2 separate regions of the Homo sapiens genome follow, and region 2 is linked to region 1. Evidence: fine-mapped expression QTL. Tissue or cell type: fibroblasts. Region 1 holds a variant in brackets; the other region holds the start of a gene. All regions are shown on one strand. Distances are from middle to middle.

Evidence for each region. PIP is the estimated chance that this variant, and not a neighbour inherited with it, causes the effect.
Region 2: it holds the start of LACTB, and the variant in region 1 is fine-mapped to the expression of LACTB in fibroblasts (GTEx, PIP 0.99). The same link has a PIP of 0.9 or more in subcutaneous fat.

What each region holds. Positions count from the first base shown.
Region 1 is chr15:63,168,377-63,171,136 of GRCh38, forward strand. No RefSeq gene overlaps it. Among named protein-coding and RNA genes, the nearest start is that of RPS27L, 12 kb to the left of the region's middle. The variant T/C (reference allele first, on the strand shown) is at 1,096.
Region 2 is chr15:63,120,646-63,123,274 of GRCh38, forward strand. LACTB (lactamase beta) reads left to right here and starts at 1,216. Exons shown (of 6, transcript NM_032857.5): 1 at 1,216-1,583; 2 at 1,991-2,057. The coding sequence starts at 1,227. It overlaps LOC107984798 (a long non-coding RNA gene), which reads right to left and starts at 1,122. Exons shown (of 2, transcript XR_001751584.1): 1 at 95-1,122. RefSeq lists silencers at 1,105-1,684, 1,705-1,774, 1,785-1,974.

The DNA.
Region 1 (2,760 bases):
CCCTTATCACATTTCTCTAGTCATGCTCCAATTTGCCCATTTCTCTCTTAAAATAGGCCCAATGACTGAACACACTGCCAGCTGAGAATAACAGGGAATTATTACTTGTCCTGTTCGGATTATCGTAAGTGTATCAATACATCCCAATATCACAAAGGTTTTTTTGTCAATGCAGTGGTATCACACTGTTGATTTACATAAACTTATAGCTGACTAAAATCCTGTCTTTTAAAACTATTAAACCTCACATTCCTTATGCTATAATTGCATTTTAAGAAATCTAAATACAGTGAATATACTAAAAATGTTTTTTAATTTTTTTATTTTTTATTCGTTTATTTATTTATTTATTTTTGAGACGGAGTCTCGCTGTTTCACCAGGCTGGAGTGCAGTGATGCGATCTCGGCTCATTGCAACCTCCGCCTCCTGGGTTCCAGCGATTCTCCTGCCTCAGCCTCCCGAGTACCTGGGACTACAGGTGCATGCCACCACACCCAGCTAATTTTTGTATTTTTAGTAGAGAGGGGATTTCACTATGTTGGCCGAGATGGTCTCGATCTCTTGACCTTGTGATCCAACTGCCTCTGCCTCCCAAAGTGCTGGGATTACAGGCGTGAGCCACCGTGCCCCACCCTAAAAACTAATGAATTGTATATTTTAATTGGCGAACTGTATGGTATGTAAATTATATCTCAATAAACCTGTTAAAAAAATCTAAGTACAGGAAAGAAAGACAGTTTTATTTTATCAAATACCTGCTACATTTTGCCAGGCACATTAGCTCATATGATCTTTTCAACAATCCCTTTGGGTTCTAGAAAAATTAAGTAACTTGTCCTGCTGGGTGTGGTGGCTCACGCCTGTAATCCCAGCACTTTGGGAGGCTGAGGCAGGTGGATCACGAGGTCAGGAGTTCAAGACCAGCCTGACCAACATGGCAAAACCCCGTCTCTACTAAAAATACAAAAATTAGCCAGGCATGGTGGCACGCATAGAAGGCTGAGGCATGAGAATTGCTTGAACCCAGGAGGCCGAGGTTGCAGTGAGCCAAGATCATGCCACTACACTCCAGCCTGGGTGACAAAGCGAGACTC[T/C]GTCTCAAAAAAAAAAAAAAAGCAGGACAAGTCACAGAGTAAACTAACTGTGTCTCCTGAACTACTGAGACAGGGCTTCTTAAAGCCTTCCATCTAGACAGAGGATTTGCATGTGAACCCGGGGCAGGGCCAAAGCTACAGATGAGTATCAAATGCCCCAGCAATGGGACTGACCGATTGTCAGGGGAATTGGCAAGACCAGTGCCAATCCTGTTTTGTTCTGGGTATGCCATCTATAATGCCATCCATCCACTTCCCTATGACACAAGAAGGTATATCAGGAAGTGACTAGGAGAAAACATTATTTTAGGGATAAGTGTGAATCTGTTGCATTTAATATTGTGATCAGTAAAAATTATCTGTGCATGTCTGATTTAGACAGGCCAGTTGAGTGTGATGGGACTAGCAGGGTAGGTGTGAACAGGCAGACACTTTCTGTGCAACCAGAATCTCTGGCTAAGCCTCTCTCCCTGCCAGCCCACGGACTTAGCCAAGTCTCCTTGGGTTTCCAGTAACAGAGGCATCTCACACTTGCCTGAGCTAAAATGGAGAGTGTGCTGGGCACCCGCCAGGGCAGGAAGGGCAGCTGGGCCACATGGGGTGGGAACAAAGCCCTGAGAGGCCACTGTGAATGGAGACAGCCATGCTCTTGCCACCTCCCTTTTTCTCTTGGGGTGACCTGGTTTCTCATCTCTTTCTCCCTGACACTGTGTCAGTCTCCTTTCTCCACAGCCCAGTTTTCCTTCTATGGTACACAGTGAAAATGGCCAGGCCAGCCCCCCAGTATAAGCTGTCCTAGTTCCAGGGCCAACTGTGACTGACCAGAGGCCTGTGTCCTAATTCCAGGTGCCCTGGAGAGAGAATCTGGTTGTCTCAGCTTGGGTCAGGAGTGTCTACCCTGGTCATCTGTGGTAGAGCCTCAGGGCCACTTGAGGAGACAGTGACTGCTGGGGCCACCCCTGTGGAAGAAGGCTAGGGGCAACTTTGAGGAAAGGAGGCACAGACTGAACAGAAGACCCTAAAGGTGCCCACTCCCTCCAGGCGTCTTTGCTGCCTTTGGCACCACAGCTGGTGGCTCTGCGCTACCCCCTCCAGGCTGCCTGCCTTCTCCCTCAAACCCCTAGCATTAATGGGACATTGTTTGTTAACTGAAAACATTTTCTCCACAAACTTCGGCAAACTGGTGGTGAATGTCTACAACAAAAACATTTTTTCCTGTGGAACAATCAAATCCGAGGACCACATGTTGAGGGGAGAAACCATTTAAACTAAAGACATACCAAGTACATTGGAACTGAGTCAGTTTACAAGGATCTACATGTGTCTAACAGTATATTTTACAACCAACAAAATTACTATGCATAATATACAAGTAATTTATTTGCAAAATGCCTTTCTAAACAGCCCTCACATTATGTCTAAATGAGAACTATCTTATTCACACTTCTTCAAGTGGCCAAAGAAGAAAATCTGAAATAAGGGGTGAGAAGCAGAAAATCTAGAGGTTCTGACCTAAGTGGGTCCTGCTTCTGACTTATAAGGTGCCATTAAGGGAACTATGGGGCACGTTGTTAAATCCAAAGGCTATACTGTGAGCCTTGGAGAGCAACTAAGACTCCTTCCCCCATAATCTCTGATAGTGGTGGTGGTGGTGATGATGATGAT
Region 2 (2,629 bases), 48 kb before region 1:
GGATACCATTATTGCCTTTTCCTCCTATTAAATAATTATTACCTCAATATATTTATTTTGAGGTATGTATATGTTTACTCAGTAAGTTTATTACCTCAATATGTTTGTCCTGATGGCTTGTCAGTTCAAGTCTGTGAGCTCTCTTCTTTATTCCACCTGCAAGAAAAGACAGGGCCATTTTGTATATGGGGCATATTGCCCCAGTGCTGAAGGTATAAAGCCTACAAGCTTTCAAAGATTGTGTGTGTGTGTGTGTGTGTGTGTGTGTGTATGTATGTATCCCAAAATATAAAAATTACAAAACTGATAAATGTTTAAGTAACTTCAAATTAACATATCAATTTCATTACACGTTAAACTAGGATTTTATACACATTTTACATTTTGTAGCAATTTGAGATTAGGTTTCTTATTTCACAAGAATGTCTGATCATTTACAGATGCTGAGAAATCATAGGTAATTGTAAATTATAATAGTTACTTTTGGATTAAAATTTTTCAAGCACGAAATTTTTAAAAAACACTTTATCTTTTATAGCAAAAGAAAGGTAATATAAGGTCTGGATGTAACTTCATGTCTTTGGTACGGTGTGGAGCTAGAATTCCAGAAGCAATAGATTTTAAAACATCTTTAGGGAAATGGGTGAATTGAAATGAGACATAAGGGAGATGGCAAGAGAGTGAAAAGAAGCGCGTTCTAAAGGGGGAAAGGAGAAAGGGAAAGGAAAGGAGAAAGGCATCTCTAAAGGGAAAGGAGATGCCTGCTGAGCGTCTACTGTGTGCCCTGCGCTGTTCCAGAAGTTGAGGATCCAAAACTAAGTCTAGGCTCCCCAAAGAAGTCCCACTCTGGTAAGGAATCTGACAAGTAGTTAAATGATACAAAGTGTTAACTGTTGTTAAAGAAGTGTGCACACTGAGGGGCAAGATGGTAAGGGCGAGAACTCCCATGGGACGGGAACTAGGAAGGCTTCTGGGAGGTGACGCTTGATCTGAGGGTAAGCAAAGGAAAAAAAGGAAAGAGAGACAGAAAGGAAAAACAAGGAAGAGACAAGAAAAGGGAGAGGAAGAAGGGCTCGATGCGATCGGCGCTCGGGTAGTCAGGCGTCGACTGCTAGGGTCTGACCGCGGTCCCCACCCCCGTCCCGCCCCCTGCCCTTCCCTCCGCCCCGCGCCGCGGCTGGCAGGGTGTGCGTGAGTTTGGTGGCGGCCGGCTGTGCAGAGACGCCATGTACCGGCTCATGTCAGCAGTGACTGCCCGGGCTGCCGCCCCCGGGGGCTTGGCCTCAAGCTGCGGACGACGCGGGGTCCATCAGCGCGCCGGGCTGCCGCCTCTCGGCCACGGCTGGGTCGGGGGCCTCGGGCTGGGGCTGGGGCTGGCGCTCGGGGTGAAGCTGGCAGGTGGGCTGAGGGGCGCGGCCCCGGCGCAGTCCCCCGCGGCCCCCGACCCTGAGGCGTCGCCTCTGGCCGAGCCGCCACAGGAGCAGTCCCTCGCCCCGTGGTCTCCGCAGACCCCGGCGCCGCCCTGCTCCAGGTGCTTCGCCAGAGCCATCGAGAGCAGCCGCGACCTGCTGCACAGGATCAAGGTGCGGCCACTGGAGCGGGGGGCGTAGGGGGCCGGGGATCCACCCCTGTCGGCGGTGCTGTCGGGGGCTGAGTGGACCCCACCCGGGGCGGCGGGGTGCCCGCGATCGGCTTCCGAGAAAGACTTCCCATTTCCCCACCGCCGAGCCGTGGTCAGACGCTCTTGGGGGTTCCCCAAATCTGGGTGGAGGTCACCGCCTGTCTCGGGGACCGCCCCTTCCCCCTAGGGGGCGGACAGGCACATCCCTTGCTGTTAGTGAGTGACCATGGCCTGGGACGAGGTGGGCGGGGCCCAGGTGGAGGGGGCGGGGCCCAGGCTCAGGGGGCGGGGCCTTGGAAGGTCCCCGAGGAGAGCGCTGGGCTTTTTCAGCAGGCCCGTAACTGTCGGTTCTTTCCCCTTCGGTCTTAGGATGAGGTGGGCGCACCGGGCATAGTGGTTGGAGTTTCTGTAGATGGAAAAGAAGTCTGGTCAGAAGGTGGGTTCAGAAAATTGTTGTTTTGTTCTGTGCCAGTTGGTAAATAAAATATTGTTTTACTGGTTAGAGTGGATCCCATGAAATGCTATTGCATTTACATAAAACGATGCATATTGTAGAGAAAACATCTAACATAATAAAGAGTCAGGTGTTTTTAAATCACGGTAAGGTTTAAAATGTGACTAATAAATTGGAGTCATGAGGATGGCTACCCACTCCCACTTTTCTCTTAGGACTGGATTTATTAGTCTGAAAGTTTTATACAGTAGTCCCTCCTTATCCTGGGGATATATTCCAAGACCCTCAGTGGATGCCTGAAAAAGTGGATGATATTGAACCCTGTATATACTATATTTTATCTTATATATACATATCTATGATAAAGTTTATAAATCAGGCATAGTAAGAGATTAGCAACAATAATAAAATAGAACAATCACAACAATACTCTGAGTGGCATGCAATTTAAAGCTTACGAATTGTTTATTTCTGGAATTTTCCATTTAATACTTTCGGACCATGGATAACTGAAACTGAGGAAAGCGAAACCACAGATAAGGGGTAACTACTGT